Linked DNA regions of Homo sapiens. The protein of the gene in region 4 interacts with the protein of the main gene of each other region in a pairwise test. Each region holds a gene or a part of one and is shown on either strand. Other genes may lie near its edges. The genes, in order: RMDN2, TARS2, RBP1 and TNFRSF10D.

Region 1 (7,364 bases), on a different chromosome or scaffold from region 4:
ACTGCGGAAAACCACTGAGCAAGGTTAGTACATGCCTTTTTGAAAATGACTTTTTTCATGGAACAAAAACTTAATGTTTCTAATGAAATAGAAAGTTTCTAATAAGAATTCTATATCTTAATTAGGTATGTATACTTTTAATAAATTGATTCAACATTGAACTGCTAAGTAGCATAACATAAATATCGTTGTTAATTTTTCTTTCATACATATCTTCCTAAAATACCATTTTTAATTTGTTCAGTATAGGAGTATTAGGCCAACCATTTTATTGGATTTAAGTGATTAATAATTTATTGCACTAATCACTTAGTCTATGGAAATATTTAATAAGCTTATCCTAATGCTTTTTTCAGATAAAACATTTTTACCTTAGAAAGTCCAAGTTAGTTTCTTTTCAGAAATTTTTTTTGTAATTTTCCTGTGTTCTAGAGACTGCCTAATTTTTTTAAAACTACATCAGACATAGTATTATATTCCTCTTTTCCCCAAATTCTATTCCTAGCCTAACCTGAATATCATAAACACAAAGTAATTTTATACTCTGTGGATTAGAGGTTGTGGTAAACTGCAGAAAACCCCCCATGGGGCAAATGATCAGATTTGAGAATTCAGTTTCTCCTCTAACAGAAGCAGTGAAAGCTGAACCCTAAATAACTGAAGTGGGGGATACAAATGATGTAATATCACATTAGAAGGGCTATGATGTTCTTGTAAATGGTGCTATGAAGAGTCCCTTCAAGTGTTCTATCAAAGGCAGGGTCTGGGGGTCCAAGATGGGCTGGGTTAAGAGAAAAGGCTCTCAGACAAAGTTAAGTTTGATATTTGTCTCTAAAACTGACTATGTGGCCTGGGACAAGTTTCTTCACCTCTTGAAGCCTTGGTTTCCTCACCTGTATGTTATTTACTTCATTAGATTGTTGGGAAAATGGAATAAGATAATTCATATAAAGAACGAAGCTTGAAAACTGTGTAGAAGACTCAATAAATGTTCCTGCTGTACCTGTTGCTGCTGCCCTTTGCTCCTCCTCGTTTACAAATGATTCGGGGAACTCAGAGCTTCGGTTACACCTGGGGGACTTCTTCCTCTGCCCCTGCTCTTTGCCTGTGCGCTTCTCCCTCTCTAAATCCCTCTCTCTCAATGGTTAGGGTGTTCTTAATTTAAAAGTTTTTCCCCAGCTATTTGCAGTAAAATATTTCCTTAACCCTTTCCTTAAAATACTTTCTTAAAACCAGCCTGGAAATGAAGGTTGATTCTGCTCTTTGAAGCGGGGGTTGGGGATTTCATAGTGGTACTAATTATACCTGCAGCTCAGCCTTCAGTTTACAAATTAAGAAATTCAGCTTGTAAGTTTGATAAGATTTGGAAATAACAACAAGGAACTAGAAAATGAATAGTTAACTATATAGCATATTGGTAACTGTTAAAGGGTTAAAACTAACTTTGTCATTCAATTGCTTCCTGGAAATAAAACCACTCAAATAAAACCTAAAAAAAAAAAAAAATTGACACTCCCATCTCACATTACTATAATGAAGGACTATACATTTCCTCATGCTTTTCCCTCAAATGTACATACTACTTTCAAATAGTTATCTAATATAGAGGGTGTGCACCATGCCAGGTTCCCAAGATACAAAGATAAATGCTACCATCCTTGAAGATGTTCACAGCCTCACAAACACACAGTCACTGGCAAGCAGTAATTATATAGTGTACACCAGAGAGGTTTGCTGTAAGCTAGCAGGGAGGCATTTTGTATTCATTGAAACTCCTGGTCCTTCCATAAGTTTTGATGGGGCATGGATGAATACTTCTTATGGGGAAGGAGAGAGTGTGTAGCTTCTCAAGGGAAAGAGGTTGAAGTGGTTGAATTGGTTTTGGACGGGTGGCAAGCAACAGGATATTCCAGGCACAAGGAACAGGATAAAAAGGATACAGCTTGTGGAGAGACGATCAGTAGCTTAGCTAGTGCTGAAGTGTAGAATGATGTCTGGTGGAAGTAGCGGAGAAAAGCTGGAAAAGTAGGTTGGGGCAAATCGTGAAGGGTCTGTACCCACTCCTCCCAAATGATTGTCATGCCGTACTGGTTTGATGAATAACAGCAACTCTGAGATTCTTAGTATGTTCTGGTTTTTCCTTCAGATATTCCTTTTAGACTGACATTCCTAGTAGTGGGGAGGGGAATCATTTCTGCTTTTTTATGTCACCCCTGCAACAGTACCTGGCAAAGATAGCGCCTGTCTTTGCTATTTAGTTACAGCTTTGCCAAGGTCAATGGTTGTCACTGTCCCTGAGTTTCTACCTTTCAGATAATTTTTACTCATCAAGGAATAGAAACAAATGTATTGGAAAGGAGCAAGTGTGACATAGTCTATGTCCTGAACCTGAAGATCAAGTCAGTATCAGCTGCCATCTTCCTCTTGGAATAGACTGGTAAGGCCTTGTTCACAGCCCATACGTCACATTTTTATTGAAAGCCTCTTCTGTGCAATGTGCTGGGGATGCAGCAGTGAACAACTCAGTGGGCTCCTGGAAAAGCTTAAATTTTGTTTTAAATACTGAAAAGCTCCTTTTAAGTATTAGCGAAGAGACAGTCATGTTTCTTTGGTATCTAAATCTTGTTAAAAGAGAAAATTGTTTTGCATGATCGGTTTATATCATATTGTATTCTAGTTAAATAAAGCTAGCATTATATTGCAAGATTGCTGCAAACCATAATAAATAGGAGTGAAGTGGGTTTGTAGAAGGTAATATTTTACTAGTTCCAAATCTGAGAGGTTAAAGATTAATCTGCTCTTTTTCCAAATACAACTTAGGTTTTTGCTCTTGTTTTTTGAGACAGAGTCTCATTCTGTCCCAGACTGGTGAGCAGTGGCCCGATCTCGGCTCACTGCAACTTCTGCCTCTGAGGTTTAAGCAATTCTCATGCCTTAACCTCCCGAGCAGCTGGGACTACAGAAGTGCGCCACCACACTCGGCTAATTTTTGTATTTTTAGTAGAGATGGTGTTTCATCATATTGGCCAGGCTGGTCACGAACTCCTGGCCTCAAGTGATCCGTCCGCCTCAGCCTCTCAAAGTGCTGGGCTTACAGTCGTGAGCCACTGCGCCCTGCTACAAATTACTTTTAATAAAATGACCATGGCCAGGCTTACTTATTCTTCAATGCGGCTTGCCTGAAGCTCAAAAAATCATCTTAAAGAGCCTATAGAATCCCTGAATCCCTATCCGTAAACAGTAGTATATGGATTGCAAAACAAGCCTTCTGGATTCTTCATGGCTTTATGGGTGTTGTCTGCTGTTGCTGTTTTGAGAAAGAGTGTACCCATTTTTAATTCTGCTCAATATATTGGTGGGAAGTTTAGAGATTAATGTTATGCAAACCTAAGCTTGAGGCAGTAATACTCAAGGTGCGGACAATACAGAAGCAGTGTATGTACTGTTTTGTTTTTGTTTTTGAGACGCTCTATCACCCAGGCTGGAGTGCGGTGGCGCGATCTCGCCTCACTGCAACCTCTGCCTCCGGGTTCAAACGATTCTCCTGCCTCATCCTCCCAAGTAGCTGGGATTACAGGCGTCCACCACCACGCCCGGCTAATTTTTTGTATTTTTAGTAGAGACAGGGGTTTCGCCACGTTGGCCATACTGGTCTCGAATTCCTGACCTCAGGTGATCCGCCTGCCTCAGCCTCCCAAAGTGCTGGGATTACAGGCGTGACCCACCGCGCCCGGCCCAGTTTTTAAGAGCGTATTTAGCAGAATTAGTTTCATTATACAAACCACAGAAAGCTGGGTAAAACCTTAAATGTCAGGCATCTGAAAAAACAGCGGCTTTCATCTAAAGGCAACTCGGAATGGCGGGGAGAAGGAAGAGGCTGTCAAAATTGCTCATTAAAAGAAAACGTGAGATAAAGCTATGAACACGGGGCTGCAGATATCAGTAATTAGTGCAAGGCGTCTGCCTTTAATTCAGTCGTGAGGAGTAAAGTGCAAGGTTGTGCCTAGAAAGGGCACAGAAAAAGGTTTAACTAGGGGAGAGGGAGTGGGTTTGAGAGCCGGAACGAAGCGAGCTGGCGGTGGGCGTGCGGAGTGGCAGCAACGCGAGAGGGAACGCGCTGGGGCTAGCGCGGAGGCCCAGAGCCCAGGCGGGGGAAAAGGTGCCGACCGGCTTCGAAGGGAGGCGACGGCCGAGACACACGGTCCGGCGCGAGCCAGGCGCCCCGCGACGTGCAATTTTATTTTGCAAAAGGTGCACCCAACGCCAGTCCCGGTAGAGTTGAACCCACCACGAGAGGGAGAGGGGGCGGGAGCGGGGGGCCGAGCGGCCGCGGGCTCCTCCCCCGGCGCCTCCGCTATCTGGGTCAGGACGCGACGGCCGCGGCGCGGGACCTTAGGACCCGCGGGCTCCAGGGCTACTGTCCGTCCGCCACTGCGCGCCAGCAGGTCCTGGTCTCCGCTCTCCAACAGCTGAAAGGCCGGCGCAGTGAACACAGGTGCGTGCGCAGTCTGGGAGGGGGCTGCTCAGCCGCTGGGGGCCGGACCGCGCCGGGGACTTGCGGAGGGAAGCGGAAATACTTGCGGTGGGGGCGACTGCACTTCCGGGTCGGTGTGTCCCTGGCGAAGCTTGAGCCTGCTAGCCAGCGGTGCTCTGCGTTCCCGGGGCTGGAGCAGCGGCCCATAGTGGCTTCCCGGGTTCATCCCTCGCTGACCCTGCGCCACGGAAGCCCTAGCCCCGGAGGTCGCTGGTATTTCCTCGCACGCGGACCCTTCTGGGGTGCGTGGGGAACAGGCAGTTTGCTGCCTCGGCCCGGCTGGTCCCTGCAAACCCCAAAGAATTTCAACAGAGACACTTGCTGGGCTCTCGCTCGGCTTTCAGCCTTGCGCAAACATTTTGTTTTTGTTTGTGTGGGGTTTTTTTTGCTCTCAGACTCCGTCTGTGCCTATTTCACACAAAAACGAAGGCCGGATTATCAGTGCTGCCAACATAGGGGAATGAGGCAAACACTTGGGAGCCCTAAATTTAAAATAAATTATAAAATACAAAAAAACCATGAAAACCTGATGAAATGAACAATAGAATTCACTTCGAAAGTACCAGGTTTTCCAGGACGCTGTAGGAAATCTGATCACTAGTTCAAGGTCTCAGTGCAATTCTCTTAGGAAACTTAAACCTCGGGCTTTTTTGTAATGTCTCTTTATCCTTGCAAAATTTGTCATACCTTCCCCGAGTTTATTAGAGTTATGCATTTTATATTTTTCTCCTCTAAGGGTCTGCTGATGAAGTTAATGAATATCTGTGCTAGATTTATGGTGAAAGCATTATAATTAATTTAGTAAAGCATAATTTCTACATCAAAAAATTAATTTTAAATAAAACTAGAACATGGAAATGAAATGTTTCTTCAGACATTTCTTCAGAAAACATTTCATATTCTATTTTCTTTAGAGTCAACATTTTGATGTCATTTTAGAATACTTGATTCTCATCTCAACCTTTAATATTACACAATAATACACATTAATTAAGTGCCATAATCTATATTAAAATGTCATTTTCCATTGTTATTTACTAGCACCTTACAAATTGAAACGTAACATAATACTTTGTATCTGATTATTAAAATATTAGAGTTTTAAAATCTGTTTGGTAAAGTTTTTAATTACTATATTTTTTTATACTACAAGTGTATACTATTAACATAATTAGAAGTATGAAAGCTAACAAGGCTGGAGGCAGTGGCCCATGCTGCTTATCCCAGCACTTTGAGAGGTGGAGGCAGGATTGCTTGGGCCCAGGAGTTCGGGACCAGCCTAGCAACATAGGGAGACTCACTCTCTACAAGTAATGTAAAAATTAGCCGGGCGTGGTTGCCCACGCTTGTGGTCCTAGCTACTAGGGAGGCTGAGGCAGGAGGATGACTTGAGCCCAAGTGGTCGAGGCTACAGTGAGCAGTGATTGTACCACTGCACTCCAGCCTAGGTGACAGAGCGAGACTCTAAAAAAAAAAAGCTATGTAAATGACTTCATACAACCTTTGAAATTATTCTGAAGGCAAGCAAGTACTCTGATGTATTTTGTACATTATTTTTAATGTGTCATTTTTCAAATTATCAGTGTTGAAGCACATTTGTTTTATGCTGTTATAAAACTCAAACATAGCTTGAACTGTTAGTCTTTAATTGTGTTTGTTTAAAACATCAGCTCCGTTGATTCTATTTTTTTCTAGTTAATTTTTGTGGTTCTGAAATAATATTTCAGCTTTGAGCATCTCTGTTCAGTCAGTACTCTCCTTCACCTCCTTGTTGATGCTTTCCAAATCTCCCACATGTTGTGGGTGCATCCAAGAGTTAGGAACAGGTTGTCAAAGGTGACAGTTTTCACTTCCCAGTTGGGTGATCACTGGGTAAGTGACTTGACACCTGTGTGCCTCAGTTCACTTATCTGCAAAATAATAATAGGACCTGCATGGAAGAGATGATTTGGAATTGGTGCAGTTCCTAAAGAAAGGGCCAAGCAAAATAAGACTTTCCCACCTGCTGAAACCTGGTCCTGTCTCAAGAATAAGTTCTCCTTCCTAGGTAGATTTTTACTTCTACTTATTTGCTTATTAAATGAAAATATTTTCAAACTAGGCTATATTTCTTAATGTAAAAGTCCAAGGTATGGGCAAAAGAAAGCAATCAGAATAGGAAGATTTCCTTTAATAGACCTCTATATCAGCGAATGGACATCCTGCCTGAATAATTTTATTGACAAAAATAAAGATGATTAAACTTGATGTGTGAATATTAGCTGGAATGCAGTTGTAATTAATGGGCATAGAGTGACTTATTTTTTTGCAATAAGCTTTCAAGATAATTTAGTTTTGTGATACAATTTTTTTGTAGAATACATTTACACATCTAGCAATAATTAGCTACAATTTCAGCTGAAGTTACAAATTGATTGGAATCTGTTGCTGGCATGTCTCCTGGATGAGCTGGGAGTGGGCAGATGGTTATAGTTCCCAGTTATACCAATTAGGTGAAAAAAAATTTTTTTAAGTTAATTCCAGGCAAATTTCTGTGAGGTAAAGCAGGCCAGATTAAGTACCAAGGCTTTCTCTGGAATCTTTGGTTTAAAAGAAGGAATTCTTAAATCTCTTGGATATAATATTCACTAACACCTGAGGTAATTTCTGGAAGATTATTTTAAAGTCAGTCCTTCTCTTTGACACTTAGGCCTGTAATGAAGTGTAGAACATCCAAACAGGATACTTTCTGTGTTCCAGGCATATACTCTAGTGAAATAGGAATCCAAAGACGTTCTTATTTTAAGCAGGCTTTTCAGAAATAGATTATGGCTGCTTGTTCTCTCAGACC
Region 2 (7,027 bases), on a different chromosome or scaffold from region 4:
TTTTTTTTTAAGCTTGTTACTTTTTAGTGGTCACCCCCAAAATCTAGGATCCCCATTTTGTGGTAGTTATTCCTAGAAGAACCATACCGGCTTTCCTACCAGCTTTTGTGAGGAAGAGCTCAGAGATCTAGGGGTTAAGGGAGAAGTTTATGAACTTGTGAACCCCTTTTTTGTGAACCCAGGTGTTCTGGCACTCCAGCACCCATGTCCTGGGGGCAGCAGCTGAACAATTCCTAGGTGCTGTTCTCTGCAGAGGTCCAAGTACAGAATATGGCTTTTACCATGATTTCTTCCTGGGAAAGGAGAGGTGAGTAATGAAAGGAAGGAGGAGAATGATTCTGGGATGGTTTCTGAGGCTCTTTTCAGGGGCCTTGGGCATGCTCCATTTGGATGAGGAAGCTGGAGGAGAAGGGTTTCTCTAGGTCTCAACTATGACATTAGTATCTCCTTCTGTGCTAGTCCATGTCCCTCTTCTAACTTTGCTTGAAATTTACCTTCTTGGCTGGTGCACATGTAGTCCCAGCTACTTGGGAGGCTGAGGTGGAAGGATCACTTGAGCCTGGGAGGTTGAGGCTGTGGTGAGCCATGATCTTAACCACTGCACCCAACTTGTGTGACACAGCAAGACACTTTCTCAAAAAAAAAACAAAAAGAAAAAGAAGAAACAACTTACTTTGTTACTTGTTAGCTTTCATAAATTCAAGTTTTACTTAATCGCCCTCATTACTATTGTTCTAACTTTGTCTATCCAGATTTCCTGCATTCAACTTTTAACTTCATGCATAGAGCTTTTTCTCCAGCTGTAATATCTGTTACCTGATATCCTATTTATATTTTCTCTGAGTTTGTCTGTCTTTGCCTATAACTCTAGATTTCTCTTGAAGGACAGGACCTTACCCGCTAGCCAACAGGTGTGTCACCCAGGTGATTGATGCACCTCATAGGATGCAACCCAACCAATTCTCCTCTTTCCAGGACAATCCGGGGCTCAGAGCTGCCTGTTTTGGAGCGGATTTGCCAGGAACTTACAGCTGCTGCTCGACCCTTCCGGAGGCTAGAGGCTTCACGGGATCAGCTTCGCCAGTTGTTCAAGGTGGGGTGGAGGGAAGAGGTGGCTCTTCCAGGACATCTTTGTGGGAATAAACACTTTTCTTCAATCTCCCTTCTACCTTTTTCCAGGATAACCCCTTTAAGCTTCACTTGATTGAGGAGAAAGTGACAGGTCCAACAGCAACAGTATATGGGTAAGAGTTGTCAAGATTAAGGCAAACAGAGAGGTGGGGAAGCATTGAAGAAGGCCAGAAATGCGATAAGGGAAGAAAGATAGAAGGTAATTTGTGTTGCTCCAGAAAAAGAAATGGGAATGGGAATTGATTTTTTTTTTTTCTTTTTTTGAGACGGAGTCTTGGTCTGTCTCCCAGGCTGGAGTGCGGTAGCACGATCTCGGCTCACTGCAACCTCCGCCTCCTGGGTTCAAGTGATTCTCCTGCCTTAGCCTCCAGAGTGGCTGGGATTACAGGCATGTGCCACCATGCCTGGCTAGTTTTTTTTTTTTTTTTTTTTTTTGAGATGAAGTCTTGTTCTGTCACCCAGGCTGGAATGCAGTGGCGCGATCTCGGCTCACTGCATCTCTGCCTCCCGGGTTCAAACAATTCTTCTGCCTCAGCCTCCCGAGTAGCTGGAACTACAGGCATGCACCACCATGCCTAGCTAATTTTTATATTTTTAGTAGAGACGGGGTTTCACCATATTGTCCAGGCTGGTCTCGAACTCCTGACCACGTGATCCACCCACCTTGGCCTCCCAAAGTTCTGGGATTATAGACATGAGCCACCGCGCCCTGCCAGGGAATTGATTTTTATCTGCCATTGCCCTCTCTCAGTAGGACAGTTCCTTTCTCTTCACCTCTTCTGTCAGCTAAAGACCATGAGAGGGAGAAAGCTAGAAGCTGAAGATTCTGAAAATCACTAACTGGCCTCTTCTTTCTCCTAGGTGTGGCACATTGGTTGACCTTTGCCAGGGCCCCCACCTTCGGCATACTGGACAGATTGGAGGACTGAAGCTGCTATCGGTCAGTTGTGGGACAGAGTTAGGTTAAGATTCCTATTTTGAGCCGGGCATGGTGGCTCACGCTTGTAATCCCAGCACTTTGGGAGGCTGAGGCAGATGGATCATAAAGTCAGGAGTTTGAGACCAGCCTGGCCAATATGGTGAAACCCCGTCTCTACTAAAAATACAAAAATTAGCTGGGTGTGGTGGCACACACCTGTAGTCCTAGCTGCTCGGGAGGCTGAGACAGGAGAGTTGCCTGAACCTGGGAGGCGGAGGTTGTAGTGAGCCGAGACTGCACTACTGCACTCCAGCCTGGGCAACAGAGCGAGAGTCCATCTCAAAAAAAAAAAAAAAAAAATTCCTGGTTTCACTGGGATGAGCAGGAGAATCGGAAGGTGATACTTTCTGTCGGCACCCCCCTTTTTTTTTTTTGAGACCAAGTCTCTCGGTCGCCCAGGCTGGAGTGCAGTGGCGCGATCTTGGCTCACTGCAAGCTTCGCCTCCTGGATTCAAGCAATTCTCCTGCTTCAGCCTCCCGAGTAGCTGGGATAATAGGTGTGCACCACCATGCCCAGCTACTTTTTGTATTTTTAGTAGAGACAGGGTTTCACCATGTTGGCCAGGGTGATCTCAAGTGATCTTCCCTTCTCAGCCTCCCAAAGTGCTGGGATTACAGGCATGAGCCACTGAGCCTGGCCCTGTACTCTCATAAGCTGAGCGGGGAATACAGGAGAAAGAAACTTTGTCCCCACATTCTAAAAACCCGTTTGATGGCACACACTGGACAGCCTGCTAGGGCCCAGAAGCCAATTCAGATGCCCTAATATGATGTCAGTATTAAGGGGGGTGGAGGGGTGGAGCAGGAGGGTGTGAGCAAGCTGGATGGGTCATACAGGGAAGGGTTGTAGAGAGAGGGGGCGTGGTCCAGGAGGAAGATGAACACCATTTGACAGGCACAGGGAAAATACCTTTAGTAAAGGGCATGCTTTTTATGAAAATACCGTTCTGCATGGTGGCTCACGCCTATAATCCCAGCACTTTGGGAAGCCGAGGTGGGTGGACCACCTGAGGTCGGGAGTTCAAGACCGGCCTGACCAACATGGAGAAACCCCGTCTCTACTAAAAATACAAAATTAACTGGGCGTGGTGGCACATGCCTGTAATCCCAGCTACTTGTGAGGCTGAGGCAGGAGAATCACTTGAACCTGGGAGGTGGAGGTTGTGGCGATCCAAGATCGTGCCATTGCACTCTAGCCTGGGCAACAAGAGCAAAACTCCGTCTCAAAAAAAAAAAAAAGAAAAGAAAATACTGTTCTGGACAAGAAGAGTTACTAGATGGAATGGGATGAGTTACAAGGGAGCAAGGGGAAATGCAGATGTGTAGAGCAAAAAGCTCTGAACTTAGACTGGGCATGGTGGCTCATGCCTATAATCCCAGCACTTTGGGAGGCCAAGGTGGGTGGATCACTTGAGATCAGCCTGGCCAACATGGCAAAACCCCATGGCGCGGTGGCCTTGGGTAAATCTTACTTATTTTCCCCATCTATAAAATGAGGCTATTAATTCCTTTTTGTCCTACCAGTAAATTCACCTCATAAAGATAATGAAAACCAGGCCAGGCATGGTGGCTCACACCTGTAATCCCAGCACTTTGGGGAGGGTGAGGCAGGCGGATCACTTGAGGTCAGGAGTTCGAGACCAGCCTGGCCAACATGGTGAAACCCTGTCTCTACTAAAAATACACAAATTAGCTGGGTGTGCTGGCCTACGCCTGTAATCCCAGCTACAAAAAAGGCTGAGGCAGGAGAGTCACTTGAACTCTGCCAGGAGGCAGAGGTTGCAGTGAGCTGAGATTGTGCCACTGCATTCCAGCCTGGGCCACGGAGCGAGACAACATCTCAAAAAAAAAAAAAAAAAAAAAGATAATGAAAACCAACTAATTCAGGAAAAAGGAAAAGTTAAAAAGTGCTGTAAAATACAGACTGTCGGCCAGGTGCGGTGGTTCACACGTGTAATCCCAACACTTTGGGAGGCCAAGTTGGGCGGATCACTTGAGCTCAGGAGTTCAAGACCAGCCTGGCCAACATGGTGAAACCTCGTCACTACTAAAAATAAAAAATTAGCTGGGCGTGGTGGCATGCACCTGTAGTCCCAGCTACTCGGGAGGCTGAGGCAGGAGAATTGCTTGAACTGGGAGGCAGAGGTTGCAGTGAGCCAAGATTGCACCACTGCACTCCAGCCTGGGCAACAGAGTGAGACTCTGTTTCAAAAAATATACATATAGGGGCTGGGCGTGGTGGCTCACGCCTGTAATCCTAACACTTTGGGAGGCTGAGGCGAGTGAATCACGAGGTCCAGAGATCGAGACCATCCTGGCTAACACCGTGAAACCCCGTCTCTACTAAAAATACAAAAAATTAGCCAGGTGTGGCCGGGCGCAGTGGCTCACGCCTGTAATCCCATCACTTTGGGAGGCTGAGGCAGGCGGATCATGAGGTCAGGAGATCGAGACCATCCTGGCTAACACGGTGAAACCCTGTCTACTAAAAATACAAAAAATTAGCTGGGCGAGGTGGCGGGCGCCTGTAGTCCCAGCTACTTGGGAGGCTGAGGCAGGAGAATGGCGTGAACCCTGGGGGGTGGAGCCTGCAGTGAGCCAAGATCACGCCACTGCACTCCAGCCTGGGCGACAGCGAGACTCCGTCTCAAAAAAAGAAAAAAAAAATTAGTCGAGTGTGGTGGTGGTGGCCTGTAGTCCCAGCTACTTGGGAGGCTGAGGCAGGAGAATGGCGTGAACCTGGGAGGCGGAGCTTGCAGTGAGCCGAGATCGCGCCACTGCACTCCAGCCTGGGTGACAGATGTATATACACACACACACACACGTATAGACTGTTTCTCATTAGTACTGTTTAACAGTTTTATTTTATTTCATTTTTATTTTTTTGAGACAGAGTCTTGCTCTGTTGCCCAGGCTGGAGTGCAGTGGCCTGATCTCGGCTCACTGCAACCTCTGCCTGCCAGGTTCAAGCAATTCTCCTGCCTCAGCCTCCTGAGTAGCTGGGTTACAGGCACGTGCCACCACACCTGGCTAATTTTTGTATTTTTAGTACAGACAAGGTTTCACCATGTTGGTCAGGCTGGTCTTGAACTCTTGACCTTGTGATCCACCCACCTCAGCCCCCCAAAGTGCTGGGATTACAGGTGTGAGCCACTGCGCCCGGCCTCTCATTAGTACTTTTTTGTTTGTTTGTTTGTTTGTTATTTTTTGAGATGGAGTCTTGCTCTGTCGCCCAGGCTGGAGTGCAGTGGTGCGATCGCGACTCACTGCTAGCTCCACCTTCCGGGTTCATGCCATTGTCCTGCCTCAGCCTCCCGAGTAGCTGCGACTACAGGCACCCACCACCACACCCAGTTAATTTTTTTGTATTTTTAGTAGAGACGGGGTTTCACCATGTTAGCCAGGATGGTCTCGATCTCCTGACCTCGTGATCCGCCCGCCTCGGCCTCCCAAAGTGCTGGGATTACAGGCGTGAGCCACCGCGCCCGGCTCATTAGTACTGTTAAAGGAGAGAGCAGGCAGAGGCTTTTGGATTTCATGTGGCCAGGAATGGGATATGGTATAGAAGACTGACTTTTCTAGCAGCTGTATAGGATATTGATAAATGGAGGAATAGACTGACATTTGACCAGAGCTTATGGTTATTCCTCTAAGCAGTCATTGATTAGAATGGGAAGGAACTAAGTAAAGGGGTAATGAGAATGGGGAGAAAAAGAGATGGCAAGGTAAGGTTAGGCCTGACCAGGTTGTATGTAGGAATTAAGAGTCAGGCAATTTCAACACTTTAATCTAGAAGAATGGTGTCTAGAGGATGGAGGTGTTCATCCTACTGGTGGGATTGTTGTCAAGAGGCATACCTGTGACACTTAACACTGAGAGTATCATTTGAGTCTTGAAAAAGGTGGGGGCCTTCAGTCCTCATCTTTCCTTTGATCCCCTATGTCCTCACACAGAACTCATCATCCTTATGGAGGTCTTCAGGGGCCCCAGAGACACTGCAGAGAGTGTCAGGGATTTCCTTCCCCACAACAGAATTGCTGAGGGTCTGGGAAGCATGGAGGGAGGAAGCAGAATTGCGGGACCACCGGCGCATTGGGAAGGTACAGGAATTGGGAAGATAGGGAGGGATGGTGATAAGGGTTGGAGAGAGATGACAGAACCTGATTATGAAATTGGGAGCAGATTCAGTCACACAGACTGAGCAGCTCCGTCAGTTGTTCTGAGTTCCAAAGCCACCTCCTTGCCCTTGAGGTGACCCAATATTGCTATTCCTGACCCCAGGAACAGGAGCTCTTCTTCTTCCATGAACTGAGCCCTGGGAGCTGCTTCTTCCTGCCACGAGGGACAAGGGTGTATAATGCACTAGTGGCGTTTATCAGGGTAAGGGGACCCAGGTCTAGAGGAAAGAAGACCAGGGAGGGGCTGAGGGACTAGAAGAAGCTAAGGTGTTTGTGTTAAAAGATGGGGGTTGGGGCCGGGCACAGTGGCTCACATCTATAATCCTAGCACTTTCGGAGGCTGAGCCGTGCAGATCACCTGAGGTCAGGAGTTCGAGACCAGCCTGGCCAACATGGCAAAACCCTGTCTCTACTAAAATAAATACAAAAAATTAGCCAGTGTGGTGGCAGCGCCTGTAGTCCCAGCTACTGGGGAGGCTGAGGCAGGAGAATCCCTTGAACCCAGGAAGGGGAGGTTGCAGTGAACTGAGATTGAGCCACTGCACTCCAGCCTGTGTGATACAGTGAGACTCCGTCTTGAAGAGAAAAAAAAAGGTGGGGGGGCTGGTTTGGAATCATAAACATAAATATTGAAAGTGCTGGTGACCTTTAATACTACAATTGTGTGGTCTGCAGTCGGGGAGCATAGAGATGGGACCTGGTATTTAATAGGTTGTGGTTGCAATCAGCATGGCCTGAG
Region 3 (5,832 bases), on a different chromosome or scaffold from region 4:
TTCTCCCTCATCACCTCCTACCCCTTTCATCCTTTTTCACTCTGCCTAGAATGCCCCTCCCATTTTTAGAAACTCCTTTGAGGCCATGACAGCCTGGGCACTTCTCTGTGGGGACCTCTACAGGCAGAAATCTTTAAGACCTCTTTCTGACTCCCAGCACCCATACCCCCACAATGGTTGGAATGAACTTAAGGGTGTTCCTCCAGGAGTCTGCTCGGAGTCTTAGCACAATGTCCATGTGTTTTTCTGCAGCCCCCAATGATTTTAGCCACCATCTCGTGGGCACCTGGCAGGTGCCCTGCCCTAGACTGGGAAACAAGTGGGCACCAAGTCATGCAAAGCCCGTGCTCCAGCCCAGATTCTTTCTCTCATTTACTAGGTGACCAGAGAAAGTCATGGAACCTCTCTGAGCTCAGCCACCCCTCTACATCCAATACAGACAAGAATAATCTCTGCTTTGTCCAACTCCTAGCACTTTAGGAGGCCAAGGCAGGTGGATCACCTGAGGTCAAAGAAAATAATCTCTGCTTTGTCCAGTATCAGAGTCAACAGAAGCTTGGGGTTAAGAAAGGCTTTCTGGGAGACTGATGCAGTATGCATGTGATAGGGATCCTTCCCTTTAAGAAGCCTGGTTTGTAGGGCTCTCAGAAAGGCTCCTCTACACCCCAACAGACTTCTGCTCTCTCTATCCCTCAATCTGTCAAGCTGCCTGAAATTCTGCCATCTGTCATTCTTTTGGGCTAAGGTATTATTATTGTTTATATCCAGATGGCCCCTGTTAAAAGATGCCAGCGATCTGGAAATGGTAACACAGTAGCCCCAGGAGCAAAAGCATGCTTTACCATTAATAAACATCTCTCTCATGGTCATTCTCTGACCCTGGTGTTGGAAGGTAAATAGGTGTGAGCTTTCTGGAGATAAAGTTGGCAATACTCATCAAAAGCTTTACAAATATGCACACTCTTTGATGCAACAATTCCTCCTCTGGAAATTTCTTCTAAGGGAACAATGTGTTCAAAACTATGTATACAAAGAAGTCTTATTTATAGTAGCACAGAATTATAAATAAATAACTTAAATGTCCAAAATAGGTAATTGGCTAAATAACAGTATGTATGTACAATCAAATACTATCAGGGACTGTTTTGTGGGCCTGTGACAAAGGCAGTCCATCAGGGCCCCAGGCTCAGAAAGCCCCTCACTTGGTTTAATGCTCTGCTGTCACCAGCTTAAAAATCTTAATGATTTTGAGCAAAGAATCCCTCATTTTCATTTTGTGGTGGACCACACACACACTATGTAGCTACTTCCTAGAATATTACGTAGCAATTAAAATAATGCTTATGGAGAATATTTGTTGAAATGGGAAGTTGCTTCAATTAAATGAAGAAATGAGGATATGAAACCATAAATGATGCAATCCTAATTTTGTATAAAACAGAAACATGTAGATAGATAGATAGATATAAAAAAAAAAGAGTGGATGGAAATTTACCATACATTGTAACATATACAATGTTAGAGCAATTATCTCTTTTTTTTTTTTTTTTAAGACGGAATTTTGCTCTTGTTGTCCAGGCTGGAATGCGATGACATTATCTCAGCTCACTGCAACCTCCACCTCCCGGGTTCAAGCAATTCTCCTGCCTTAGCCTCCCAAGTAGCTGGAATTACAGGCATGCACCACCACGCCCAGCTAATTTTGTATTTTCAGTAAAGAAGTAGAGACGGGGTTTTACCATGTTGATCAGGCTGGTCTCGAACTCCTGACCCCAGGTGATCCACCTGCCTCAGCCTCCTAAAGTGCTAGGATTACAGGTATGAGCCACCACGCCTGGCCTAGAGTAATCATCTCTAAAGAAACAAAACTACATGTATCATTTTTATTACCATTTTCTTCTTCGGTGTTTTTTTTTTTAATTTTCCAATACAAAGACTATGACTATACTTCCTGACTAATATTTCCAGAAGAGGCAAAAATGTATGTCATAGCTGAAAACAAGCAATTGTCTCTTGTGCCTCTGAGTGAATCCGGAACCCTTCATATGCACAGTAGCCTTCTGGATAAACACATGAAGAGAAGATCAGTTGATGAGGAAACCAAGTGTTCTTATGAGCTTCTTGAAGCTGAGGACTGATTTCTGGGTCCCCACTTCCCTCTACAGGCCTGGGATGGAAGGAGCACGGATAAGTGAATGGGTGTCCTGTCTTATTTATGGCATGAGGTCATGAGTAGTCTTTACCCATGACATGTCTCACCACACATTAACCACACTATGTTTTGCGTTCTCTCTAGCCTGGGACTAGACTGTGCCCTGAGTGAATTTCTGGATCAGAGAGAGGATCTGCCCCCCAAGTCCTTTTATGCCCCATTTCTCTCTGGAGCAGAGAGCAGACTTACTCCTATGCAAAGCTGGGGGAGCACATGTGGCTCCACCTGCCTCCCTCGTGCATGTGTCGCATTGCAGGCTTCACCCCAACAGCAGGGGGCAGTAGTGATCAGCAGGCCCAGGTGGGAGGCCTGGGGTGGGGAGGTCCTCCTGCAGGGAGTGGCCCCACTAACGCCACACCCATCTCCCATAAGTCTCCTCTCCCAAATCCTTTATTCGGCTGTTGCTGACTGTCCTGACTCAGCTGAGCATGGCAAGGAACACAAGGATCCTAGAACCTTAGCTCTCTACATTCAAGGCCTGAGTTAATGTCCCCATGTGACAGATGAGAGCACAGGGGCCCTGAAAAGGGAAGGATTTGCTGAGAGCCACACAGTGAGCAAGGGGCAAACAGAGTGCTGAGCACTACTGTGGGGAGGCCAGGCTCATAACACAGAACTGCCCCATATGGGACGGCTATTCAAAAGAAGGTGGGCAGCCCCAAATATGAGTGATGCCCACTGCACTTTCTGTGTGCCCACATCTGCGACATGTGTCCCAGTCTAGGGCACACTCATGGCTATGCTGGGATGACAGGACCACCTTGCCTCTGAAGTCCAACACTTTTTTCAGCCCCGTGTTGCTAGGTGGGCCTTTTCTGCTCCACTAAGACTGAAATCTCCCCAGGACACAGGCTGGGCCTCCTCCTCCTGCCTGTCTTCCCTTCAGCATGCCCAGCACATGGCAGGGCTCACAGTGCTCAGGGAAGATGTGGGGGCTCAAATGTGGGGTGTAGAGGGTGTCACAGTGCTCATCTGTGCTCTGCCAAGCCCAGGCTGGGCTGTGGGATTTTCCTCGCCTTCCTCCTCAGTTCCCTGGTGCCCTCCTGATGAGCTCCTAAGTGTACTTCCCGCTGTCCCACCTCAGGCCTTCACCGGGTGGTGGGCTACTGGGAGCTCTTCTCCACAGCGCCTCCTTTCCTCTCCTTCAGCTCCATTCTTCTCTCCTTAGAGCCCAGCCCTAGTGAATCCCACTCCCTGGACTCTCACCTGGGCTCCCACAGCCTCTGGCCTATAACCCTGGTGACCATGAACGCTTCAAGAAGCAATTTAGTCCATTGGGGTGGGGACCTTCAGAGCCCCACAGATCTGTGTTCAGACCTGGTTCTTCTACTGAACAACATGGGTGAACTTGGCAAGTCCCTTAAGCTGATCTGTGAAAAGGAGATGCTAATCCCTGCTCACGTGGATAGGCATGAGGCTTCAGAGACAGCACAGAGAGTGCCTGGCAGAGCAGGTAGGCAGCTAACAGCTGCCATTTGTACCTTCACTGGGTTATTTATATCTAAGGTCATTCTCCCTGTGAGATGAAGAGCGCTTTGAGGGCAGGGGTGGGGTCTTTTTGGTATCCCAGGACTTAGCATAGGTTGAAACAATGAATGGATGAATGAAGTGTCTGGGGATGGTCAGGGTACACTCTGAGAAGTCTGCCCCTCACCATAAGATTCTGGAAAACATCCTTCACCCCTCACACCCAGCTGTGCTCAGCCCTCAGGCCCTCCTCTCCACCTTAGCCCCATTCTCAGTGCTTGCAATGACAGCCCCACTCCAATGACTTTTTCCCTCCTAATTACCCTTTTAAATAAAATTTATGAAGGTTTTCATAAATTTTAAAACTGATTTACACACTTTAATAAAAGCATGTGATGGACAGGGAGTATTAGGCTGCAGATTTTCTACAATGAAATTGACGTGAGCACATCCCAGATTATCAAGTTTGGGAGCTGCCCCCTCCCCCAGCCTCCAGGAGCTCCCCGCTTGCTCAGGATTGACAAATGTGTCTCTTTCTTGGCAGACAACAGTGAGCTGGGACGGAGACAAGCTCCAGTGTGTGCAGAAGGGTGAGAAGGAGGGGCGTGGCTGGACCCAGTGGATCGAGGGTGATGAGCTGCACCTGGTAGGTTCCTGGGCTGGGTCAGGCCGGGTCCCCAGAGGCCCTGGTCATTGTTGAGGTCCAGATGGACCTTGGAAAAAGGCACCATGGATGGGCCTTGGTTCTGTTCTAAAGCTTCTCTTCCAAGGGCCTGGAAAAGATGCCTGGGTGACTTTAAAAACCAAGCAATGTATTTTCAAGGTCTAGGCTGACCCAATCATCTAATCAGAGGGAAGAGGTGAGGAGTTATATCCATTAAGCATCAGCAATGAGCTAAGCCCTTTTGCATTCTATAACTCTATTCTCTCAGAATAGGAATATGGCTCTTATTTTAGAGATGAGGACCTGGGGGCTCTGAAAGATTAGATTACATGTCCAAATTGCACAACTAGAAAGTGACAGAACAAACATTTGCTCCCAAATGATGTATATATTCACCATGCCAAATTGTATAGGCCAAAGCCAAGAAGGATTCTCTAAGCTTCTCTAAGATATGATCTCAATCTGGGTCAGCGGGAGGTGATTCGGGAGGGGAAGCGTCAAGGGGTCCTGTTGGTCAGCTCTGAGCCACATCCATTCCTCTCAGCCAGCTCTGTCTGTAGGGTGCTGCAGAGCACTCCACTATACAGTTTAACTGTCTTTCCAAACAATTGGTTACTTAAACCAACTCTTGGGGAAAAATAACAGCCAATGAGTATTTTTAGAGTTCTTGCCGTAAGTGTGACTCTGCTCTGGCCAATGACCAACATCTGCTTTTGTTTCAGGAGATGAGAGTGGAAGGTGTGGTCTGCAAGCAAGTATTCAAGAAGGTGCAGTGAGGCCCAGGCAGACAACCTTGTCCCAAGGAATCAGCAGGATGTGTGGGCCAGGATCCCCCTCTTTGCACAGCATGAGGCAAAAATGTCCAGCCACCCCCAGGCATCTGTTAGCAGAGTCTGTCTCTTGGCTTTGTCACTTTTCCTTTTCTTAAAACAAAGCCATGCCAATAAAGTGATCTGTGTTCAAAACGTCTGTTTGGGGGAAGTTTCACTGCCCACTGTGCTCACTTTTTCTCCAGGGCTTCTGAGGCCAGCTTCTCCTAGTGCCACCCATGGGCAGAGTGGATAAATTCAGCCACATGTCCTGAAATTGCACCGTGTTTCTCTCCAGAGGCACAGGCTTGGGTCTAGAATGGGAGGTGGGAGAGTGGCCTGACATTCAATCATTTGTGTATCAAGTAGCTACCATGTTATGTATCTAATTGTGGCCAAAGTATAGTGAGTGCCACAAAAGCAGGAGAAGATACCTTCCACCCTAGAGATCCAACCAACAGAGAATGTCTATATAACTGCACAGTACACCAAGGAGATGCTTCATCATTATTTGTGAATGAAATGGAACTGGACAGAATTTTAAGCCCAAAGCATAAAATTACTTAAACATAAGTAATTACCTATTGGATTTAATTTCAGAGATGTCATGAGATGTCACCACCCTCAGACCATCCACCCCATCTACGGGCTGGTATCAGCCCTTTCTTTTCACTGTTGTA
Region 4 (7,458 bases):
CAGTGAAGGTGTGGAAGCCAGCCCTTCATGCCTGTGTCTCCCCCCATTTTAGACAATCAATGTTTCAGTTGACTGTTCCGCTTCCCTATCAAATTATTACTCTAAGGAGGATATCTCTCTGCCCATTGCTAAACATTATGCACTGAACAGCCTGTTTCTCGGTCCAAGGAAGTTCGGTTTAGTGGTCCAAACTAGAATAATACCTTCTTTCAGTTCTTTTATATTAATAGCACTCTGGGCATTTGCAGCCTCCACCAGGTAAGGAAAAGACAATCCACAGTCAGTTTCTGTTGCTGTCGAGACTCACCTGTACCCCCCAGGGCACTGCCCTCAGTCTCACTTTCCAAGTATGTTGAGGGCCTCCTCATCAGGGAATCTGCCTCATAGCTATAGGCAGTCTCTGTCTCTCCCGCTGCTAGACAGAACAGCTCTTATTGGTGTCATGTGCCTGAGAGAGAGCAAGAGGAATGTGTTTCGATTCAGCCCATCTCTGCGTCACTGTGGTTCCCCCATATCCACTTCTTTTGCTTCGTGGCCTCTGGTGACCACCTCAAGGGAGTACACGGGGGTATCTCTTGCTGATTACAGTCACTTTCTAAACCTGAGGGTGGGTTCTACTGACCAGCATGGGCGTGTCTTACTTTAATGCACTCCTCAAGCTCCCCTAGAGATTTCCATAGGGTCGGGCCTCATATGGACATCCCTACACTAGGTCAGTTTCCCCTTACTCTTGGAAACAATGGAAAATGTAGAGACGAATATCCAAATTTAATACCCTTTATTTGGAAAGTAAGAATTGCAATTCTTGGCATACACAAAGACCAAGTTGTCTTTGGTACGTCCAAAGAACAAAGAGAAGTTTGGAAGTTTTTTTTTTTTTTTGAGACGGAGTCTGGCTCCGTTGCCCAGGCTGGAGTGCAGTGGCGTGATCTCCGCTCACTGCAAGCTCCGCCCCCTGGGTTCATGCCATGCTCCTGCCTCAGCCTCCCGAGTAGCTGGGACTACAGGTGCCCGCCACCACGCCCGGCTAATTATTTTGTATTTTTAGTAGAGACCGGGTTTCACAGTGTTTGCCAGGATGGTCTCGATCTCCTGACCTCGTGATCCGCCTGCCTCGGCCTCCCAAAGTGCTGGGATTACAGGTGTGAGCCACCGCACACGGCCAGATGTTTTTTTTTAAATGAGAAATACTAAGTATTTTTTTTTGCAGAAAGTTCATTGGCGCTGTAAAATTTGAAGAAGTGGCATGCTCTGACTGGTGAGTGACTGCAGTGGGTCAGGCTGGTCTTAGAGCAGCAGCTGGTTGTGTCAATAGATATAAGACAGAACTATTAATAGTTTCACGTTACAGCTGCCAGACTTACAGAGAATTGCAGTTTGGGGGTAATACAGTGATTTTTCTTCCCCATGGCCTCTTGACTCTGTTTTAGTTGGGTGTGACAAGAATGACCCAATTTGTGCGATCAACTTTCACATTCTCCTTCCCAACTCTATGACCGGGACATTGACGACTGTCCATGAGCCAGAAAAAAACTCAAGTACAGGGGCTTTTGCTGCTGTTCAAATCTTCCATAAGGCTAGGAAAATAGCATGCAATCCAACCCACCTAGCCAATTTGCCTTTGCCTTCTTCCATCAGAGGGGTGGCCTTCCAAGTAGGATGTTGTCCATTCATCTAGGAATGACTGTCTACAAACTAAGTAGCTCTTGGTCAGTAAGTAAAGAGCTGTGTATAGGGCAATGTCCAAGTGACCACAGAATCCAGCAGCTCCTCACCCAGTTCCAGACTCAGTCTGAGGGGAACAGAGGCTCCCTGCTCATGAGTGTCTCCTCTTTGCCTTCCTCAGGCACCAGGATCCCATATCAACCATTTCCATTTTTTAGGCTGAGTGAGGTGGCTCACGCCTGTAATCCCAGCACTTTGGGAGGCTGAGGCGGGTGGATCACGAGGTCAAGAGATCGAGACCATCCGGGCCAACATGAAGATCCCTCGTCTCTACTGAAAATTCAAAAATTAGCCAGGCGTGGTGGCATGTGCCTGTAATCCCACCTACTCGGGAGGCTGAGGCAGGAGAATCGCTTGAACCCAGGAGGCAGAGGTTGCAGTGAGCCTGGATCGTGCTGCACTCCAACCTGGCAACAGAGTGAGACTCCATCTCAAAAAAAAAAAATCCATTTTGTAATAGAACTCTTCTGGGACTGGCCTCCCCGTTAGAGCTTTTCCAAGATTCCTGAAGACATCATCAGTTTTTCAGGTTTCAAGATTATTTTATGTCCTTCAGTGACAGGGGAGACTTCAGTTAGTGTTCCATCTCAAGCTAGTAAGTGCCTCTTAAGTGGAAACTTGACTCTAAAGGCCCAGTTCCTTGGAGGTGCTCACAGCCTTTTGCCATTAGCCCTAGTCAGTGCTCCACACAGGGCACAGAGAATGCGTTGTTACCTGCAGTCTGGTTTCTGGTCTATACTGTGTGGTCCACCCTCCAGGGCCAAGGGAGCTAAGGTGCTCTAAGGACTTTCCTGCAGGCCCTGGTGGCTCTGTGTTAATGCTGTCAGTCTTCCTGAAGTCCCTGACCTTTCACCTCCTGCCTGGATCTGCACCCCGCACACATTCCTGACCCCACACATTTCTCATTGCCTGGGTCCTGGCACACATTTCTGACCCTAGCTCAGTGTCTGGGGCCTGGCACACATTTCCGACCCTAGCTCAGTGCCTGGGGCCTGACACACATTTCTGACCCTAGCTCAGTGCCTGGGGCCTGACACACATTTCTGAGTCTAGCTCAGTGCCTGGAACCTGGCACACATTTCTGACCCTAGCTCAGTGCCTGGAACCTGGCGCACATTTCTGACCCTAGCTCAGTGCCTGGGGCCTGACACACATTTCTGACCCTAGCTCAGTGCCTGGGGCCTGACACACATTTCTGAGTCTAGCTCAGTGCCTGAAACCTGGCGCACATTTCTGACCCTAGCTCAGTGCCTGGGACCTGGCACACATTTTTTTTTCTTTTTTTTTTTTTTCACAGAGTCTCGCTCTGTCACCCAGACTGGAGTGCAGTGGCACGAATCTCGGCTCACTGCAACCTCCATTTCCTGGGTTCAAGCAATTCTCCTGCCTCAGCTTCCTGAGTAGCTGGGATTACAAGTGCCCGCCACCACGCCCAGCTAATTTTTGTATTTTTAGTAGAGATGGGGTTTAACTATGTTGGCCAGGCTGGTCTCGAACTCCTGACCTCTTGATTCGCCCACCTCAGCCTCTCAAAGTGCTGGGACTACAAGCGTGAGCAACCGCGCCCGGCCCTGGCTCACATTTCTGACCCTAGGTCATTGTCTGGGCCCTGGAAGGTGCTCAGGGTGATCCATCGCTCAAATCCAAGCCTGTGGAGAGGATGACATTTCATTCCCAGGTTTCTCATGAGCCAAAAAACCTTCATTTCTATAGCGCTATCCTCTTCTATCTACCATGTGAGGGGTCAGGAGCCGACTCATCCCAAGGGTCTAGGAGTCCTGCCATTGACCTTACTGCTTAGGGTCACAAGCTGGCACCCTTCAAAACCACACATTGGGTCTGCCCTCACAGCGGCAGTGTGTTCAACTGGATGGGGAGGTAAGTAGCCCAAGGTCAGACAGTTGGACCTGGGTAGACAATAGACTTGGGGACAGACTTTGGAAGGCACTCCCCTGATTCCCCTGTCTCCATGGGGCCTCAATACTAGAGCCCTCAAGGTTGGTCAGGGAGTGTTTGTGCTTTGACCATGCAAAGGGTGCCAGGTTGTGGCTAGGGATGCCCCCGGCGTTCCTCTCCCTCCTACCTACTCCTCAGCCTCTGCAGGTGCCTGTCATGGCCTCTGTGTCCTTCATTCTGTCCACTCATGTGTTCACTGGGCCCCTCCTTGGTGCCAGGCACCCGCTACTGAGGGATACCAAGCCCCTGCCAGAGAAGCTTGGAGCTGGGTCACAGCAGCAAGGAGGCTGGAGACATCAGTGGCATCAGTGCACTGGTCAGTGAGGCCGCTGTGGGAGGAGGGAGTGGGAGCAGAAGCTAAGAGTGGACTGAAGTCCTGAGGCCAGGAAGTAGTTCAGGGTTTAAGAAGAGGAGAGACAGGCGGCCCGGGGAGGGAGCAGGCTCAGGATGGGCCTCCAGTGCCTCCTCTGGAGCTCACTACCCAGACTACAGCAGCGCAGCGGGCAGCGCCTCAGCTCCTTCCCCTTCTGCTGCCTACAGCCTGGACAGGACCCGGAATCAAACCGCAGGCCCTGGGTCACCGCTGCCGGAAAGAGCCAGTTCCTGTCCGTCCATGCACCCACCCACACAACCTGGGCCCTCCTGGAGGTGCTGGGGGAGACCCAGCCTGAGTGCCTGGAAGTGACTGCGGGAAGGGAGTACAACTGACCACGCCTTTTTTCCGGGGTATAAAAGCGGAGGAGCACGTTCTATTCTGGCAGTGTAGCTGCGAGAACCTTTGCACGCGCACAAACTACGGGGACGATTTCTGATTGATTTTTGGCGCTTTCGATCCACCCTCCTCCCTTCTCATGGGACTTTGGGGACAAAGCGTCCCGACCGCCTCGAGCGCTCGAGCAGGGCGCTATCCAGGAGCCAGGACAGCGTCGGGAACCAGACCATGGCTCCTGGACCCCAAGATCCTTAAGTTCGTCGTCTTCATCGTCGCGGTTCTGCTGCCGGTGAGTCTCCGCCGCGGTCCCTGGCTGGGGAAGAGCGCACCTGGCGCCGGGAGTGGGCAGGGAGAGAGGGGGACACGGTGGGGATGCTTGGCCCGGGTCGCCTGCGGCCGGGCATGTCTGGGCAGGACGAACCCGCCGTCGGAGTCAGGGGAAGAGTGGGGTGCCCGGGCTGGGCAGGAGCGACCGGGCCGCGAGGGAGCAGAGCGCGCGCTCCCCCTGGCTGTCCCGTGCGGCGAGGACCGCACTGAGCTGCCCCAGAGGAAGTTCCAGAATCAGCGGAGGGAGGGAGTCAAGATGGAAACCCCGGAGTGAACCTCAGGAAGCCACAGAGCGGTTGCCTCTTTCGTTCGTTCGTTCGTTCGTTCGTTCATAACGTTAACCCAGGCCGGTCGCGGTGGCTCACGCCTGTAATCCCAGCACGTTGGGAGGCCGAGGCGGGCGGATCACCTGAGGTCAGGAGTTGGAGACCAGCCTAGCCACCATGGTGAAACCCCGTCTCTACTAAAAATACAAAAATTAGCCGGACGTGATGGCGGTCGCCTGTAATCCCAGCTACTCGGGAGGCTGAGGCAGAAGGAGAATCACTTGAATCCGGGAGGCGGAGGTTGCAGTGAGCCGAGATCGCGCCATCGCACTCCAGCCTGGTCAACAAGAGCGAGACTCCGTCTCAAAAAAAAAAAAAAAAAAAAAAAAAAAGTTAGCCAGGCGTGGCAGCCTGCGCCTGTAGTCCCAGCTACTCAGGAGGCTGAGGCAGGAGAACTGCTTGAACCCGGGAGGCAGAGGTTGCAGTGAGCCGAGATTGCACCACTGCACTCCAGCCTGGGCGACAGAGCGAGACTCTGCCTTAACAAAAACAGACAAACAAACAAACAAAATTAACCCTATGTTTACACTGTTACACGTGTTTCTTGGAGATCAGTTTAACAAACAGCCTGTGAAAAAGCTTTCCAACGCTGTTTTTTGTAACTTTCATTTCCTATAGAACCCTGAAAGTGGCAGGAAGCGGTTAACCAAGGTGCTTGCAGTCAGTGTCTTCCACTGCCACCCGTGTGTCCCCTCTGTATCCCATAGGCAGGACCGCGGGATGGCCCCTTCCTTAGGCATAAAAGATGTAAAGTTCTCGTTGTGAGTTGGGTTTGGAAACTGAGATTGGTAGTGGGGTGCACAAGAAGGACATAAAAATAAGATGTGCAGACTGCCAGGACTTTTTCTGAGTGACTGACGTTTCTGCCAACAGTGCTTTCTAAGGTTTCTTACGTAATACCAAAAAACAAAACGGGGAGGATAAAACAAGATTACATGAACCATGAGAGTCTCCATGTTTTCTTTCAACGAAGTAATACTAAATTCAGAACAGCAGTGACATTTTCACCTCTCAAAAATTACACAACTGACTTCTACAATAGTTTATAGTGGGTGGACCTACCTGAGGCAGCTAGAAGAATGGCTGTGTCAGGACAGTGGCCCTGAAGAGAGAATGTGTGGATGACCTGTGTAGACAAGACCAGCAACCTGAATTTCACAGTTTTGGGAATGTGAACTCTATGCGTCCCAAAGGAGGCTTTGATCCCTCCATCAATCTTGCCTTATTAAATGCATTTCAATGCACAGTTGCTTTTTAAAATTTTGGAGCTAGCACAAATCACATTAGATGTTTTATGGCAGTACATTCAGATTGATTTTCTTTTAAACAAGGGTATTGTATTTTACTACATGGGTAAGCCACAGGTTAATTCACTGTTGCCATCTAGAGGCAGCTGGTTATATCCCATCCCGATGGGATATAACCCAAAGCAAATTTGCCTTTGCTAATTCCAACAGCATTGTACTAAATACCCTTGTATGTATCGTGTGTCCACATGTCCATGCGCACCAGCTTATTGGGCAACTCCTTAGAAGTAGAATTTTACTTCTACTTCCGTGGGATAAATCATTTCAGAAGTTTCTTTAGATGTTTACGAATTTTCTTCCAAAAGACCATTGAACTCAGCTTACACTCACACCTAGTTCACACATGTGCCTGTATCCCTACACCCTTGTTACACTTAGCTTTCATTCGTTGCTAGTCTAGGAAGTAAAAGGTGATTCATCACATTGTTATGTACTTTCATTCCTTAATGGTATTAGGAATTTTCAAGGATACGGGAGTTTTGGTAGTGGGAGTAGATGACCGGGGGATCCAGATGAGACAGCAGGGGAGGGTGGCAGGGAAGACTGAATTCCCAGCTGTGAACTTGGAGAACCGTGGTCAGCTGGGGCCAGTCCCTGCCACCTGCCACGCCTGTAAATGGAGATAAGGTCTCCATCTTCAGGCTGTCAGGAGGACATCAGATGAGCCTGGAGCTGAGCTCAGTTCCTGACCCCAGGTCCTGGCTCTGTCAGCGTTGGACTGTTCCAATCTGTGTGACAGAGGCTTCCGCCCCGCCCTTCTCTTTATCAAAGTAGGAATCGAAAAGATCCAACGGCCCAGAATCTCGGACTCTGAGGCTCTCAAGGACTCCTGAGATTGGAGGCTGGGAACAGCTGGGCCCTGCTGTGCTTCCCCTCCAGCTCTGTGACACTGGTGTGGCCCCAGCTCCTGCCTGTAAAGTGAAGAGGAGATAAAAATCTTCAGCAGCCCTGTGTAAACCTCAGAGGGCTGTGTTAGCAGGTGTGGGAGGATGAACCACATCCTCAGGGCTGGTGTCAGTCACTCCGGACTGGATCCCCAGGGCACATGTCCTCCACCCAGCAGAGGCTGCACCTGTTCCTACTTGCACCTCCATACCAGGCTCCC

Evidence for each region.
Region 1: the proteins of TNFRSF10D (region 4) and RMDN2 interact in binary tests that used the Homo sapiens proteins (3 or more experiments, as listed by UniProt).
Region 2: the proteins of TNFRSF10D (region 4) and TARS2 interact in binary tests that used the Homo sapiens proteins (3 or more experiments, as listed by UniProt).
Region 3: the proteins of TNFRSF10D (region 4) and RBP1 interact in binary tests that used the Homo sapiens proteins (3 or more experiments, as listed by UniProt).

Annotation. Positions count from the first base shown.
Region 1 is NC_000002.12:37,920,931-37,928,294, forward strand, and holds the start of RMDN2 (regulator of microtubule dynamics protein 2), read left to right. Parts: upstream 1-4,356; 5' UTR 4,357-4,495; intron 4,496-4,600; exon of another isoform or gene 4,601-4,776; intron 4,777-7,364.
Region 2 is NC_000001.11:150,490,419-150,497,445, forward strand, and holds part of TARS2 (threonine--tRNA ligase, mitochondrial), read left to right. Parts: intron 1-182; coding exon 183-307; intron 308-975; coding exon 976-1,093; intron 1,094-1,179; coding exon 1,180-1,244; intron 1,245-1,926; exon of another isoform or gene 1,927-1,992; coding exon 1,993-2,071; intron 2,072-6,063; coding exon 6,064-6,210; intron 6,211-6,391; coding exon 6,392-6,490; intron 6,491-7,027. UniProt on the Homo sapiens protein: Catalyzes the attachment of threonine to tRNA(Thr) in a two-step reaction: threonine is first activated by ATP to form Thr-AMP and then transferred to the acceptor end of tRNA(Thr). Also edits incorrectly charged tRNA(Thr) via its editing domain.
Region 3 is NC_000003.12:139,516,914-139,522,745, reverse strand, and holds the end of RBP1 (retinol-binding protein 1), read left to right. Parts: intron 1-4,223; coding exon 4,224-4,325; intron 4,326-5,065; coding exon 5,066-5,119; 3' UTR 5,120-5,308; downstream 5,309-5,832. UniProt on the Homo sapiens protein: Cytoplasmic retinol-binding protein. Accepts retinol from the transport protein STRA6, and thereby contributes to retinol uptake, storage and retinoid homeostasis.
Region 4 is NC_000008.11:23,161,010-23,168,467, reverse strand, and holds the start of TNFRSF10D (tumor necrosis factor receptor superfamily member 10D precursor), read left to right. Parts: upstream 1-4,440; 5' UTR 4,441-4,532; coding exon 4,533-4,682; intron 4,683-7,458. UniProt on the Homo sapiens protein: Receptor for the cytotoxic ligand TRAIL. Contains a truncated death domain and hence is not capable of inducing apoptosis but protects against TRAIL-mediated apoptosis. Reports are contradictory with regards to its ability to induce the NF-kappa-B pathway.